3 separate regions of the Homo sapiens genome follow, and regions 2 and 3 are each linked to region 1. The links come from fine-mapping of genetic effects on gene expression. A gene starts in region 1. Each other region holds a variant in brackets. All regions are shown on one strand. Distances are from middle to middle.

Evidence for each region. PIP is the estimated chance that this variant, and not a neighbour inherited with it, causes the effect. A credible set is the group of variants that fine-mapping cannot tell apart.
Region 2: its variant is the best candidate, but not a certain one, in a credible set for the expression of ARHGEF4 in whole blood (TOPMed, PIP 0.78).
Region 3: its variant is the best candidate, but not a certain one, in a credible set for the expression of ARHGEF4 in esophagus muscle (GTEx, PIP 0.69).

The regions. Positions count from the first base shown.
Region 1 is chr2:130,833,928-130,839,609 of GRCh38, reverse strand. ARHGEF4 (Rho guanine nucleotide exchange factor 4) reads right to left here and starts at 2,696. Exons shown (of 14, transcript NM_001367493.1): 1 at 2,618-2,696. The coding sequence starts at 2,656. It overlaps ARHGEF4-AS1 (ARHGEF4 antisense RNA 1), which reads left to right and starts at 2,616. Exons shown (of 2, transcript NR_186036.1): 1 at 2,616-3,300.
Region 2 is chr2:130,994,407-131,000,088 of GRCh38, reverse strand. All of the region lies in intron 4 of ARHGEF4 (Rho guanine nucleotide exchange factor 4), which reads right to left. Among named protein-coding and RNA genes, the nearest start is that of SMIM39, 38 kb to the left of the region's middle. The variant T/G (reference allele first, on the strand shown) is at 2,226.
Region 3 is chr2:130,811,523-130,817,204 of GRCh38, reverse strand. No RefSeq gene overlaps it. Among named protein-coding and RNA genes, the nearest start is that of ARHGEF4, 23 kb to the left of the region's middle. RefSeq lists an enhancer at 2,370-2,869. The variant C/A (reference allele first, on the strand shown) is at 2,449.

The sequences.
Region 1 (5,682 bases):
TGCAGGCTCTCCGACTGGTCTGCCTGCACGGGGAGGGACTCTGCCACACGACTGTCATGCCCCATGGATCCCACGGTGCCCAACGTGCCCAAGCAGATCTGTGTGCTGTACAGAGTCTGTACCAAGTGCCACCAGAAGGCACACCTGGGGCCTTGGGGTCCTCCTCCTGGGCTTGGTGGAGACTAGCTGCATCTTGGCTAACAGAGTCTGACTGGGAGACCCAGACAATCTGAGGTTCCCAGAATGAAGTGGCCTTTTCTGGCCCAGTCCAGCACCCATCATCAGGGGTACCTCATAGGACCAATCCCTGGGGACACCAGGAGGCACCAGGCGGTGACTGAAGCACGTAGCTCCTCTGCCCACCCCACAACCTGTGTCCTCACGGGGTATTCCTTACGACCAGTGTCTGAGAGGAACAAGTATGAACTACGTTGTCGGTGGCTCGGCAAGACACACTCACACAGCCAGAAGTGGACTGCTGTGGCAGTCAGAGCCCCTCCCATGTGGACAGCAGAAAGGAGACCCTCTGAGGGGCACAGGTGATGCTTCCTGTGGTGTGCATGGGGAGGCCTCAGGTGTCTCAGGACCTACAGGGACCTGAGGCAGAAAGTATGGAAAGGCCTCTCTGAATAGATGGGGAACTGGAGGACCGTGTGTGTCAGGAATACTTTCACAAAGGCCAAATCCCAGGAGCCTCCCAGGCAGCAGCAGGCAAGGTGGCTGCCCAGAGATGTCCAGTGGTCTCTCCTCCAGCCACACTCCACCTGCTCCTGGAGCTTCTGGGGCCAGCTGGGTGACTCAGATTCTGCCCAGGCATCTTGGATTCTGTCCGGCCATCTTCCCCTCACCTGGGCAACTCCTTGCCACCCTTGCTGTGGGTGCAGCAGAACCAAGGTCCAGGGCTCACCACTTCATAAACACACTCACGTTTCTTTCCTTCCTTCCCTCCCTCCTTCCTTCCTTCCTTTCCTTCCTTCCTTCCTTCTTTTCTTTTTCTTTTTTTTGAGACGGAGTCTCGCTCTATCACCCATGCTGGAGTGCAGTGGTGCTATCTTGGCTCACTGCAACCTCTGTCTCCCGGGTTCAAGCAATTCTCCTGCCTCAGACTCCCAAGTAGCTGGGATTACAGGCGCCCACTACCGCGCCCGGCTGATTTTTGTATTTTTAGTAGAGACGGGGTTTTGACATGTTGGCCAGGCTGGTCTCGAACTCGTGACCTCAGGCGATCCGCCCCCCCCACTCGGCCTCCCAAAGTGCTGAGATTACAGGCATGAGCCACCGCGCCGGGCCACACTCACATTTTCTAATAAGACCTTCACACTAACCCTGAAAGGTGTGGAGGGCATGGAAACATCACCCACATTTTTCAAAACAAAGACCCAGGTGGTTATGTGATTGTCCCAAGATTGTACACCTCCTCAATGACAGAGTCGGCATTTGAAGGGGGTCTGAGCTCTTCCAAGCCATCTCCTACACTCACCAGCACAGGTTCCTGAAAGGCTGCCTTCCCGGCTGTCCGGCCCTCTCCACTCTTGATGCCAGCGATCACTTCGTTATCGCTGGGGGTGGGAGCTGATGCCAGGCCAGCGGATAGGCTGAGGGCAGGGCTCCTGCAGGTCTGCCCTGGGTCACCTGGCTTCCTGCCCCTTTCACTAGAGCTCTCAGGGCCACAGAACTCCGACCTCAACCTCCCGTCTTCAACTCCGGGAGAAGATGGCTGCACAGCCAAGTAGGGCGCCCTCCCGCCCTCCCGCCCCGACAGCCCCACACAGGTCTGCCTCCCCCTGGACCTGCAGCTGACAGCTGGTGGCTCTTCCCCGCCTCTCCTTTCATGCAGTTGCTCCCGGAGTAGGAGCCCATCGGAGCTCAGCACCACCCAGCGTCGCAACCGCCCTCCCGCTGGCTCACCTGGGGAGGTCGGGCTTGGCAACCTGTGGCCGGCCACCCCTGACAGTGCCCCGGAGCCCCCGGCCCATCTTGGGGTTCCTGTGGGGGCAGCGAGGTGGAGGCGTCCCAACTGAGTGGGTCCCGGATGGTGAGCGGGCCCGGAAATCGGGCCAGAGAGGGGGCACCCCGAGCAGGAGCCCAACAGCCCCGACCCCAGTTCCAGCCCCTTGCCGCTGCTGCGCCCTCGCGTACTCTCAGCCTGGGGAATAACAACAGCAACCACTTCTCCCGTACCCACCGGGCCGGCACCAGCCCTCCTTCCCAAAACAGCTGGTACTGCGCCAAGCGGCAGAGGCTCCGAGTGCCCTGCGCGCCCAGGCCGGTCCAGGCAGCGGCTCCGAGTGCCCCGCGCGCCCAGGACGGTCCAGGTGCGGGGAGGCCGGCTCAGGCGCTCGCCCTTGCCCTCTCAGGGGCTCGCCCCGGGCCGCCGTCCCTACCGCCCCCAACGGAGCCCCGTCCTTCCCCGCGCTCGAGACGGCCCCACTTTGCAGGACGCCGCCTCCGGTCTGCACGTCGGAAAGTTGGGAGCGGCGGGGAGCCACGAGGGTGTCCCCACCCACCGGGTGCCCAGGGGACGGCCCGGGGCGCAGCAGCCAGCGCGGGCTGTGCTCCTCCCCACCCGCGCAGGGCGCCGGGAGCCCGACCGCAAGTCCCGGACGCCGGCTCTCACCTTGAAGAAGCTCCGGAGGAAGTGCACGACGCTGAGCATGGTGGCCGCCGGGACGCCCGGAGCCCGGCCGCAGCACTACGAGCCGCGCCGCCGAGCCGGCTCCACCGACGCCACCCCGCGCCCCGCCCTAGGGTCCGCCCCCGCGCCCTCGCCCGGACGCTCCGCCCCCGCAAACCTGGCCACTGGAGGCACGTGAGGTCCAGGCTCCTGCCCTGCCCGCCCCTGGGCTTTGGTCACCCGCGGGACTGGGCACGCACAGGCACACAGCAGAGCCGTCCACAGACCCGGCCCAGGGGCCGCCGGGATCATCCCGCCCAGTCGAGCTCTTGGGCCCCCTTGAAGCCTAGGAGTGTTTTCTCAGAGAGAAAGCAGCACGCTTCTTGCGCATTTGCACATCTCCAACGCAGCGCTTCGGCCTGTCCTCCGCACTGGAGACTCAGGTGCCTCCGCCCTCCTGAGAGCAGGGGCGGCCTCTCTGCTGAGAGTTCTGATTGTCAAGCTCCCAGAACTTTCAGAGTTCAGTCCGCCCAGCGTTCTTGTTTACCAGTTGAGGAAACGGAGGCCCAGGGAGGCTGTGCAGCGCGCCGGCACTCACACACCTGGTGGGGACAAATGTGGACTAGGATATCTGGGACCGAAGTCTTGGCCTCCAGCTCCCTCTTGCCTCCCACTTACCTTTCCAGGTATGTCCTGCAGATAGGATGTAAGTGAATGGTCACACCCGTAACCATTAAGGAGCGCAGCTTTCTGCTAAGGGGCAAAGGGAAGTCCTCGCTGCTTTCTTTGCAGGGGTTTAAGGAGACAGGGCCTGCCAGGAAACACTCTAACCAGCCCTAGGACCGCACTATTTTAAATCAGAAGAAAAAAACTGAGTATAATAAAATAATAATGAATCTAGCCTGGAGTATATTCATCTTTATATGAATGCAGTTGTAAACTCTAATTTTAACTATTTTATTTTATGCAGGAAGAGGCCCACGAAAGCTAAGACCCCAAGGCCCATGTGCACCATACTGCAGCCCTGCTCTGTCCACCATTTCTGAGATCGGCGCCCCACAGAGGGAGAGCATCTGCCCAGACTGGCTTTTTGCACCCCTGCTCAAGCCTGCACCCTCGTCCAAGTCCTAGCCCCACTGAACGCTATGCCTGGTCAGCAGTGCGTGTCAGGGGTGCCTGGCAGAGTGTGCATTTTCCGTACACCCAACCTGTCTCTGCCTCTCCCCAGGCCCTCACAGCAACCAGGCCAGGCGAGAAGCTTGGGAGATAGATACTCAGAGGAGGCACTGTGGGGCCATCTGAAGATCCTGCGTCCCCTGTCACAGCCTTTATGTCACTCAGGGTCCATGACTGTGCTAGAAGCATGTCCCTGAGGCCCATGGTGGTGGGAGGAGGGTGTGGGATTCGGATCTGGGCACCTGGCTGTGCTGCACACCAGTTGTGTAATCATGATCATCTGCTCTAAACACGTATCTTTAACATTCGAGAGGAATGACCGCCTGGTGGGGTTGCCATGGAGAGTACGTGAGAAATTAAACCTCACAGGTGCTTAGCAAAAGTTAATTCGCTCTTCTCTGAAGGCTTAAAGTGCTAATCCCCTGGCGAGGGGGGAGGTCCAGTGAAAATACACAACCCCTGGCCACAGGTTCCATTGTTGTCTGGACTCCTCTGACCAGTGGACAGCCCTGGACCTGGGTTCTCAGACCTGAGTCAGAACCACGTGGAGGACACCATAGAGCTTAGGCTGCTGCCCCTCACCGCTGCCCCCCTCTCACAGGATCTGGGGTGGGGCCTGGGAATTTGCATTTTAACATGTTTCCAAGTGACCCTGAAGCTGCTGGCCCTGGGACCACACTTAGAGAACCCCTGGTTCAGGCTATGGGGCCTGGGCCAGGCTCGCCGTCTAGCAGAGGATCAGACCCCAGGTTGGAGCATAACCGTCATGATGGCTCCATTCATCAGGCACCTGCTGTGTCCCCGCACGCCCAGATCCCTGCCACAGCGCAGCCTCCCTAGAGAAGTGACATCCAATGCTCGAGGGGAAATAAATCAAAGGTAGTTTATGTCTGTCTTTTCCTTCTGGTGAACATGGTTTTAGGAGGACTTGACTGCACTGTGGTGTGCTCTCTCTTTTGCCGTTATTAAAAATAAGAAAGGCAGGCCTGTTTGAGTCGCTGAAGGATTTGTACAATAGAGTTTCTAGTCAGTGGAGCGTCCCATGTTTAAATATGACCCCGACTTCCTGTCTGTCACATATGGCAATTAAACAGGTTCAGCAGCATAGGGGAGTGAAGTGAGTGGTAGGACAGAAAACATCGCAGCAGATTCCAAGTGGCAGAGAGAGCGTGGGCACGGGGTGGACCGATGGAACTTACAGGGGCTTGTGCTTTCCTCGCTGGGCAGCCTGGGCCACTTGCTTTACTTCTCTGGCCCAGAGACCACAGGCTTACATATAGACAGACCTACACTACCAGCTGGGGCCTGAGTCACAAAAGACAGAAACTTCCCCTGGCTACTCTAGCAGGAAAGGGATTTTTGCAAGAATATGGAGTAAGGCATAGGCAGGGGGAGGTGTGCTGACCTGGGAAACAGGCAGCCAGCCGGCTACGGCAGCGGCAGCAGCCAGAGCTCACCAGACAGACTGCCCACTAGGGAGGCTGGGGCTGGTGCCTCTCCCTGCAGCTTTGCTCCTAGACTCTGGCCTCCTGTAATCTCTGCCGACGATCCCTGCGTCCCTGGTCCTTGACCAGCTCCAAAGATGTAAAGTCCAGGACCACCCACGTGTTGCTGTCTGACTGCTGGTGAGTCAGGGGAGCCGTTGTGAGGAGGGCATGAGCCTTCAGCTAGCCTGGTGGGAAGCCGGCCTGCTTGTACAGCTGTCATAGGTGGGGGACAGAAATCAGGGACACGTTGGAAACAGAATCTTTTTTTTTTTTTTTTTTGAGACGGAGTCTCCCTCTGTCACCCAGGCTGGAGTGCAGTGGCATGATCTTGGTTCACTGCAAGCTCCACCTCCCAGGTTCCTGCCATTCTCCTGCCTCAGCCTCCAGAGTAGCTGGGACTACAGG
Region 2 (5,682 bases), 160 kb before region 1:
AAACATTTTATTATGGAAATTCCTAAATACAGGTAGTTCTGCTGTAACAGAATAAATATGATCTTAAAAAGCACTATGCTGGCTGGGAGTGGTGGCTTACGCCTGTAATCCCATTTTGGGAGGCCGAGGCAGGTGGATCACCTGAGGTCAAGAGTTCAAGACCAGCCTGGCCAACATGGTGAAACCCTGCCTCTACTAAAAATACAAACATTAGCCAGGTGTGGTAGGTGTGGTGGTGTGCACCTGTGGTCCCAGCTACTCAGGAGGCTGAGGCAGGGGAATCGCTTGAACCCAAAAGGCAGAGGTTGCAGTGAGCCAAGATCGTGCCACTGCACTCCAGCCTGGGCGACAAGAGCAAAACTCCATCTCAAAAAACAAAACAAAACAAAACAAAAAAGCACCATGCCATGTAAAATCATGCAACAAAAAATGCAAGATTTAGGAAAAATGGGTTAGGGAAACAACACTCAAAAACTTGGTTAGTAACACATCTACAAAAAGATAGGAGTTTATTCAAAATGTTAGCACATTAAGAGAATGAAAAGAAAAGCCACAGACTGAAAGAGAAGATTTACAAAACATGTATGATAAAGACCTGGTATCAAAAATACACGACTCTTAAAACTCGATTATGGCCGGGCACAGTGGCTCATGCCTGTAATCCCAGCACTTTGGGAGGCCAAGGCGGGCGGATCACAAGGTCAGGAGATCGAGACCATCCTGGCTAACATGGTAAAACCCCGTCTCTACTAAAAATACAAAAAAAATTAGCCAGGCGTGGTGGCGGGCGCCTGTAGTCCCAGCTAGTTGGAAGGCTGAGTCAGGAGAATGGGCGTGAACCCAGGAGAATTGCAGTGAGCCAAGATCGCGCCACTGCACTCCAGCCAGGGCAACAGAGCGAGACTCCGTCTCAAAAAAAAAAAAAAAAGAAAAAACAAAAAAACCCTCAATTATAAGAAAACAACTCAATTAAAAAATGAGCCAAAGGTCTGAACAAACATCTCACCAAAGAAGATATACAGGTATGTCATTAGGGAATTGGAAGTTAAAATAATAAAGAGCCACCACTACACATCTATTAGAATGGTTACATCCAAAACACAGACAACCCCAATTGCTGATGAGGATGTGGAACAACAGGAGCTCTCATCCATGGCTTGCGGGAATGCAAAATGGTGCAGCCACTTTGGAACACAGTTTGTCAGTTTCTTATGAAACTAAATCTAGTCTTACCATATGATCCAGCAATCACACTCCTTGGTATTTACCCAAACGAGTCGAAAACATGTTCACACAAAACGTGTACACAAATGTTTATAGCAGCTTTATTCATTACTGACAAACTTGAAAGCAACCAAGATGTCCTACAGTAGGTGAATGGATAAACAAACTGTGATACATATACACAACGACAAATTATTCAGCAAGAGAGAAAAAGGAGCTATGGAGCTATGAAGCCATAAAAGACACAGAGGAAACCCAAATGCATACTGGTAAGTGAAAGAAGCCCATCTGAAAACGCTGTGCACTGTGGGATTTCAACTACATGACATTACAGAAGAGGCAAAACCACGAAGAAGGGAAAAAATTATCAGTGGCCAAAGGTGCGGGGAGAATAGGTGGAGTGCAGGGGATCATTAGGGCACTGAAATTTCTCTGTATGGTACTGGATGGTAGACACCTGTCATTACACATTTGTCAAATCTCATAGGATATAAACACACAAAGTGAACCCTAACCAACACACCAGACTAACCAAGATGTTAATAACTGGTGACAGGGTGAGGGGTTTATAGGAACACTCTGTACTCTCTGCTTCATTTTTCTATAAACCTAAAACTGCTTGAAAAAATAAAGTCCATTCATGTTAACAATGATAGCACAATTTTACACATGCTAAAAGGTTAGGAAATATATAAATACTACAATAAGTATGGCACTATGTGAAAAAGACTTGTGATTTGCATGTAGAAGTGGGCATCAAGAGCTTATGAGTTAGTGGGAAGTGGTGAAAGAAGGGGTCTCTGAGGTCAGAGGCAAGCTGTGACTCCAGAAGTGGTGGTGTGGCTCATGACACACAGAGTGAATCCATGTATAGCTGGACACTATCCCAGGTGTGCGTCTGTGTGTTCCTACGAAGCTCTGCTCCTGGGGGAGGTGTGCGTCTGTGTGTTCCTATGCAGCTCCACTCTTGGGGCACATGGGGGGCAATATTCTGCATTAAG[T/G]GGGGGCAGTATTCTGCATTCACCTGGTGTTTCTAGTGGATGAAATTGCACATAAGCTAACATGAAATTTGCATTATACTCAAACGGTTCCCTAACACATCAATCATTTTGGAACAAATTTGAGTTTTCAAAACAAGCATTAAAGCAGAACAGGCCATATACGAAGGCAGAAAATACAGTCTATGCACTCATTACCAGCTTCAACCTTGCAGAATTAGGATTAGAACTGCTCAACATAGAAACTATCTTAACTTCACAAAGGTTATTGCCAAAATCCGCGGCGCACACTCTATGTAATGGAGAAAGTTAAGATGGGTTTGCTTCAAGACAGAAAACCAGAGAAGAATGCACGTGATGCCTGCTGCTGTTTACCAGGAAGCCAGAGATCTTGCTTATGCTGTAAGTGAAGCACAAGAAACAAAAGGCACTGGATTATAGGAGAAAAAGAAGTCACAATTTAGAAATGACCTAATCATCTACCAAGAAAAAAAATACATAACAAAAGCATCAAACTATGAGAACTAGTAAGAGAGTTCAGATAGATGCTTTAAAGTATTTTTTAAATTACACCAGCAATAACAACCTGCTAGAAGGTTGTATTCATAATAGCAAAACGAGCTGAACAATAAAAGCCTTGTGGGGAAAGGGAAGCTGGATCCCCATCAACACACACAAAAGGGGGCTCCACTTGACCTAAAGCCTTGTACATGAATAGAAATGTATAAAATTAAAAGTTCATAATATAAGATAAATAAGGGCAGTGACTTCTTTAGTAATAGCACAAGGCAGAAGCCATAAACCAGCAATAGTGATTGCTCGATTTTTATGCAGTAAAAGATAAGATGGCAGTTAGCTGACAGACTGTGAGAATATATTTGCAATATTTATATCCAACAAAGAATAATATATTCAAAATATAAAAGGAGCTCTTGCAAATCAACAAGAAAAAGACAGAAACCCAAACAGAAAGATTGTAATTGGAGAAATGCAAATTAAAATGATGACTTGTCACTTTACATCCAATAGACTTGAAGAAAATTACAAAGTTGGAAGATTCTGGGTTTTGGTGGTGGTATGGGGGATGCAGGACGTCTCATGCTGTTGGTGGAGAGTATACTGGTGCGCACACTCTGAAAAAGTCACTGGGTAGCATTTAATTAAAACAAATGCAGGTATTCTCTAAGGCCCAGCAGTCTCTTCCTGGATAGGCATCCACCAAAATTCTGACACAGTTTACAATGGGACATTTACAACACTAGATTTTTTGTGATACTGATTGTGCCAGTAGACAGTTGAAGGCAATCCAGGTATTTATCACTGGAATAATTGATAAAATGTGGGAGATGCACATCATGGACTACAGAGAGAATCAAAGGACTGAAAATATACACAGCAACAGAGGTCTTAAAAATATAACGATAAGTGACTTCTGCTTTTGGTAATGGCAGTCTATAATTCAAAAAATTCACTAGTGGAGAACAGTTAGAAAAACTAGACAAAATATAAAACACATGCACTTCAAGACACGAGACGGCTACTAAAATGCGAAGAACAGCCAGGTTAGGACACAGAGGGAACGGGCACAGGCAGGTAAGCCGAGTGTGCAGGGCTGCCTTGCCTGGGGAGCCAGGGTGCCCATTCCTGATGAAACAGAAGTATGGTTGAAAGGCTGAATAGGCTGGGCGTGGTGGCTCATGCCTGTAATCCCAGCACTTTGGGAGGCCGAGGCAGGTGGATCATGAGGTCAGGGGTTCGAGACCAGCCTAACCAACATGGTGAAACCCCGTCTCTACTAAAAATACAAAAATTAGCTGGGCATGGTGGCGGGCGCCTGTAATCCCAGCTACTCAGGAGGCTGAGGCAGGAGAATTGCTTGAACCTGGGAGGCGGAGGTTGCAGTAAGCCGAGATCGCGCCACTGCACTCCAGCCTGGGCGAACACAGCAAGACTCTGTCTCAAAAAAAAAAAAAAAAAAGGTGAATAATACTTTTAATAACTTCAAGGGGCTGGGGTGAGAGCAACTGGATGCAAGAGTGCCCCAAGGGGTGACAGTGGAGATCTCACTTTGTGGTGGGACTACGCATGGCTGTAAGCTAGAAGCATGGGCGAGTTCTACATGGAGAGGCCCCTGCAGGACGTGGCTCAGCTCTAAATAATTAGAAATTGGACCGAAGTAACCTTAATTGCTAGTTCTCAGAGTTCCTTGGCAGAAGCAAATATAAATCCTCTCTGGAGAAAGATAATATCATCATAAGCCAAAAATTATTGTCATAAAGTATTCTGCAGATACTTTATTCATAACCAAATAAAATATAACCAGGCACATGTGGAGGAGAGGCAACATGCACAACAGGAGGTAACTTCAATAGCTGCAGATCCACAAGAGGTCCAGATGATGGCGTCGCTAAACACAAACGTTAGCACTAATATACTCGCGGGCTCACGGAGGTAGAAGGCAAGGTTGACTATCTCAATGGAGAAGTAAAAACTCCAGGAAAGAAACAAACGGAAGCTCTTGAGTCAAAGTATTCAATAACTGGAAACAAACTCAATGAATATGTTTAACAACATATTAGGTACAGCTGAATAAAGAAGAGAGGTCAGACAGAAAGATTCAGAGAAAAACAGACAGAGACAAAAGGACAGCAAGCACAGAGGAGAAGGCGAGAGATGCTGCACATTCATTCACAGGGAAGTTTCCATGTAATTACAGTCCCAAAAGATGAGACAGAGGGAATGCTGGAAGCAATGTTTGAAAAGAATGGCTGAGAATTTTCCAAAATAAGTGACAGACATCAAGCCATGAATCCAAGAATCCCTATGGACTGTAAGCTGAGTAAAATTTCAAATAACCACATCTGGGCACATCTTTAAGACTGCTGAAACACCAGACACAGATAAAATGCTGTGTGGAGTCCGAGGAGGAGTCAGGCTGACTCTGAAGTGCAGAAGTTAGAACAGCTGATGTTTCAACAGAAGCAATGGAAATCAGAACACAATGTAATGGCATCTATAAAGAGTCCACTTCTATACACAAAATGCAAGGAATTAAGATTTAAAAAGGCATTTTCAGATAAGAAGAAAACAAAAACAAACACTGAAAGAATCCATCTCCAGAAGGAAAACACTCCAGAAAGAATCAATCTCCTTAAGGAAAACACTAGGTTTCTTTATCCTGGCAGAAAAGAGAAGGATCCCCGACAGGAAGGTGGAGATTCAGGAAGCAATGAAGAGCGATGAAGATGCAAGTATATGGGAAAACATAAATGAACATGAACTTTACAAAACAACGTCTTATTGGACCAAAAAATATATGGTGAAAAAAATGTAGAGAATTAAATCTATGAAAACAATGGCCTATAAGTCAGGAAGGGGTAAATGCATGGTCTGGGAAGATGTTAAAAGTCCTGATTTATATTGATTTATATTTGGCTTTTATAAGATAGGTCTGCCCACA
Region 3 (5,682 bases), 22 kb after region 1:
GAATGCTTTTTAATATTTGCCCTGCAGACAGATGCTACGTGGCATTCTGTTAAATTTGCATTTGCAGGGTTACTAGTGGGTTAATCATGTTTACTGTGTTTCTTAGCCAGTCTAGTTTCATTTTTGCACAATGTTCTAGTGGAGTGTTTGTTTTCCTGATTAATTTATAGCCATTATATATTATGGATAACTTCACTGCCAGTTTTTTGTATTGCAAATATGTACTCGCAGTTTGCAGCTTGTTTTCTCTTTCTTCTTGACTCAATTTTGGTAATTTTAATATTTCTAAACAATGATCCATGTCATCTACCTTTATAAAATTGTTGCTGCTAGGCCAGGCATGGTGGCTCACACCTGTAACCCCAGCACTTTGGGAGGCCGAGGCGGGCGGATCACGAGGTCAGGAGATTGAGACCATCTTGGCTAACACAGTGAAACCCCGTCTTTACTAAAAACACAAAAAAATTAGCCAGGCGTGGTGGCGGGCGCCTGCAGTCCTAGCTACTTGAGAGGCTGAGGCAGGAGAATGGAGTGAACCTGGGAGGCGGAGCTTGCAGTGAGCTGAGATAGCACCACTGCACTCCAGCCTGGGCAACAGAGCAAGACTCCATCTCAAAAAAAAAAAAAATTGTTGCTGCTAATGTTAATCATAGTATTCTCTCGTTCTCCCATGAGTTTTTGATTACACATTTCTTTTATCTTTTTTTTTTTTTTTTTTTTTGGTGTGATCACAGCTCACTGCAGCCTCGACTTCCTGGACTCAAGTGATCCTCCCACCTCAGCCTCCTGAGTAGTTGAGACTACATGTGTGGGCCACCATATCTGGCTAATTTTTTTTTTTTTTCAGAGATGGGGTTTCGCCATGTTGCCGAGGCTGGTGAGGAACTCCTCCTGGGCTCAAGAGATCCAGCTGCCTCGACCTCCCAAAGTGCTGGGACTACAGACATGCACCACCACACCTGGCCTTTTATCCTCTTTTTAGCAAATGCATTTAGGGTTTGTATTTACCTGTAAGAACAGGTTTACCTGAATTTCGCATAGTTTGATAGGTCATCCTTGCATTGTTCTCAGTTCTTAAAATTTCAAAATTTCCATTTTGAAATGTTTCCTCCTTATCTTTGGATTTTTAGCATCTTTAAAAATCTCTACACAGGTTTTTTGACTGATGTTTTATTGTTGAGTTCATACTTATCCTACTGCCATTGGAGGATCTGGCCTGTATGACTCCAATTCTTAGGAATATGTTAAGCTTTCTTTTGTCTCTTTCCCTGAGCCCACTGCCCCTGGCCAGCTCTCTGCCAGGGCAGCTGGACACTATGGGGTGCTTGGATCCCCCCACACCAGCCTAGAAGCTCCTCTGGACAGAGGTGGATCCAAGCGCTTGCCTCCCCAGCATCTGAGCCCACGTCGGCCTGGACAAGACTTCAGGCCTGCCTTCTCAGTCTGCCAGTGAAAAGAGCCATCCTTGGGACACACAGCTCTAAGTGTCTGGACCCCAAATCTTTCTCCTCCTCTGCAAAGGGACCTTCTTTGAGATTCTGGGGACTGAACTTGACCAGAACATTTGGGGTCACTCACAAGCATGCTTGGCTGCTGAGCTCTGTTCCCCCAAGGTTTACTGCCCCCATCCCCATGGCCTCAGACCCCAGCCCTCACCACCTCCCACACAGCAGGCTCAGCCCATCTCCACACACCAGGCCCTGGGCATAGGCTCCCCAGCCCGCTGGACACCACCCAACTCAGGTGCGGAGCTTCCTCCTGCCTCCCCGGCCCCAGGGAGTGCCGCTTCCTGACTCCAGAGTGCTGTTCGTTCCTGTGCTGTTCATACCATGACGATCATCCGTAAGAGCAACTCTGCAACAGGTGCTCCCGTGTCCCCCCTCCTCTACTGCTCAAAACACACCCAGGGACAGAGGAAGACTCCAGGCTGCAACATCGAGACCTAAGGGCCAGTCCAGAAGTCACCAGGCCGTTGACTCCAAGGCCCGCTTCACATCTGGTCTCACTCCCTTCTCTGTGAAGCACGGACCGGGAGGGACACCTCCTAGGACCTGCTGCAGGTGACAGAACAGCACAGGGACAACACCTGGGCACTCAGCTGTCAGCAGAGACTGGAGGTGCTTGGACCTAGGTTTCCTGACCGCGAGCTGCAGGCCTTTCCAGAACATCTCCCACATGCTCTCTTGCCCCAAGCACTGTGACATATACCCTGTGTCCTCAAATCAGACATTCACTCAGCAGGCACAGGGACTGGCATGCTGCAGGCAGGGCTGTTCTCTCCCAGAATCACGTTCTAGGCTTACAAACAAAAACCGGGACTTCCGATTCCAGCAATATGGCAGGTCTACTTAATTGGAAACATTTTCCACCACAGAGCACATAGAAATGCTGGATTAGGCTGGGCGCGGTGGCTCACGCCTGTAATCCCAGCACTTTGGGAGGCCAAGG[C/A]CGGCGGATCACCTGAGGTCAGGAGTTTGAGACCAGCCTGACCAACTGTCTCTACTAAAAATACAAAATTAGCCAGGCATGGTGGCGCATGCCTGTAATCCCAGTTACTCTGGAGGCTGAGGCAGGAGAATGGCTTGAACCCGGAAGGCCGAGGTTGCTATAAGCCGAGGTCACACCATTGCACTCCAGCCTGGGCAACAAGAGCGAAACTCTGTCAAAAAAAAAAAAAAAAAAAAGGAAAGAAATGCTGGATTAAATTCACAAACATGCTTTCAAATGCACTCCTGGAAGCGCAAGGCCATAAGGAACACCGTCCAAGAGGCCAGAAACAAAGAGCAACAAAAAACAAGTGAGCCAAACATAGGAGTGAGCACTGGGGCTGCCCTGGGCCCCGCAGGCCAGGTGGGACCAGCCCCTCTGTCCAGGGGCCAGGCCCAGCAAAGCAGGATGTGCTCAGGAGTGCACAGTGCAGGGAGCTCAGCCTCGGCAATCACCTCTGTGCCAAACACAGAGAAATGCTTCACAAAATATTAAAAGGACAAAATCAGAAAATCATGGCCAGCCTCAAAAGTTAGGAAAATGTCTCTGAGATCAGCAAAGAAGCAGGACTGGAATCTAGTGAGCTGGGCTAACATCTCAGCCTTACTGGAGGCCCAGGCAGAAGGTGGCACTTTGATTCCTGCAGGGTTTGGGGTATGAAAGGTGAGACTGCAGCCAGGCTCACTGTGGGAGAAAGAGTGGAGGGAAGGGTGATCCACTGAAGGATACACAAACTGATCTGCAAACTTGTTTGCTGAGTGACATTTGGCTGACCACACCCACAGTGGGCCTGCCGGATCAGCGCTCCTGGGAAAGACACTGGCCTCCAGAAACAGTCATGTGAGCCTCGCTGACCCGTGCATTTCAGGGTGTCACTCACAGCTCTAGCAGATGTCCGACTCTAGCCCTCAAGCTTCAGGATTGAAGATGCCCCAACCTCTTCCCTGGCATGATCCTGAGCTAGAAACATAACATCAAAAACATGCTACAAGTGCAGCGAAACATGGCAGAGCCTGATGTGCAGTCCTCTTGTCCACTAAGGTCATGACGTAGGGTGCCAGGCTCTCCCCTAATGTGATCAGAGTCGGGGGTCTTAGCATGGTGTATGGCCAGATGACTGAGCTCTGGTCCAGCCTTCCAGGGAGATCAGCCTTCAGGGAACCAGTCTTGGAGAAGTTAATGCTTCCCTTTTTTTTTTTTTTTTTGAGCTGGGGTCTCGCTCTATCACCCAGGCTGGAGTGCGGCGGTGCGATCTCCGCTCACTGCAAACTCTGCCTCCCAGGTTCATGCCATTCTCCTGCCTCAGCCTCCTGAGTAGCTGGGACTACAGGCGCCCGCCACAACGCCCGGCTAATTTTTTTTTTTTGTATTTTTAGTAGAGATGGGGTTTTATGGTGTTAGCCAGGATGGTCTCGATCTTCTGACCTCGTGATCCGCCCGCCTCGGCCTCCTGAAGTGCTGGGATTACAGGCGTGAGCCACTGTGCCCGGCCAATGCTTCCCTTTTACCAAGAAATAAGCAGTGGGACACAGTGGCTCATGCCTGCAATCCCAGCATTTTGGGAGGCCAGAGTGGGAGGATCGCTTCAGCCCAGGCATTTGAGACCAGCCTGGGTGACATAGCAACACCCCGTGTCTACTAAAAATAATTTAAAAAAAGACCGGGCCTGTAATCTCACACCACTGCACTCCAGCCTGGGTGACAGAGTGAGACCCTGTCTCCTTAAAAAAAAAAAAAAAAGAAAGAGAGAAAAGAAAAGCCTGGGTACAGCTACAACAAAAAAATAAAACTTCAGGCCAATTACTCTCTGATGAACACTGATGCAAAAATCCTCAATAAAATACTGGCAAACCAAATCCAGCGGCACAGCAAAAAGCTTACCCAGCTGGGTGTGGTGGCTCATGCCTATAATCTGAGGACTTTGGGAGGCTGAGGCAGGTGGATCACCTGAAGTCAGGAGTTCGAGACCAACCTGGCCAACATGGTGAAACCTGTCTCTACTAAAAATACAAAAATTAGCTGGGAGTGGTGGCACATGCCTGTAATCACTGCTACTTGCTACTCGGGAGGCTGAGGCAGGAGAATCACTTGAGCCTGGCAGGCAGAATTTGTTTGCAGTGAGCCGAGATGGCGCCATTGCACTCCAGCCTGGGTGACAGAATAAGACTCCGTTCAAAAAAAAAAGCTTATCAGTGATAGACTGGATTAAGAAAATGTGGCACATATACACCATGGAATACTATGCAGCCATAAAAAAGGATGAGTTCAGGTCCTTTGCAGGGACCTGGATGAAGCTAGAAACCATCATTCTAAGCAAACTATCTCAAGGACAGAAAACCAAACACCGCATGTTCTCACTCATAGGTGGGAAGTGAACAATGAGAACACTGGGACACAGGGCGGGGGACATCACACACCAGGGCCTGTTGGGGCCTGGGGGGCTGGGGGACGGATAGCATTAGGAGAAATACCTAATGTAAATGATGAGTTGATGGGTGCAGCAAACCAACATGGCACATGTATACATATGTAACAAACCTGCACATTGTGCACATGTATCCCAGAAATTAAAGTATAATAACAAAACAAAACAAACAAGCAAAAAAAAGCTTATCCACCATGATCAAATCGGCTTCATCCCCAGGATGTAAGGCTGGTTCAACATATGCAAATCAATAAATGTAATTCAGCACGTAAACAGAACTAAAGACAAAACCCACATGATTATCTCAATAGACACAGAAAAGGCCTTTGATAAAATTCAACATCCCTTCATGTTAAAAATTCTCAATAAACTAGGTATTGAAAGAACATACCTCAAAATAATGAGAGCCATTTATGGCAAACCCACAGCCAATAGCATACTGAATGGGCAAAAGCTGGAAGCATTCCCCTTGAAACCAGCACAAGACAAGGCTGCCCTCTCTCACCAGTCCTATTCAACATGGTATTGGAAGTTCTGGCCAGGGCAATCAAGCAAGAGAAAGAAATAAATGGTATTCAAATAGGAAAGAGAGGAAGTCAAACTGTCTCTGTTTGCAGGTGACATGATCCTATCTCTAGAAAACCCCATCCTCTCAGCCCCAAAGCTTCTTAAGCTTATAAGCAACTTCAGCAAAGTCTCAGGATACAAAATCAATGTGCAAAAGTCACAAGCATTCCTATACACCAGTAAGAGACCAACAGAGAGCCAAA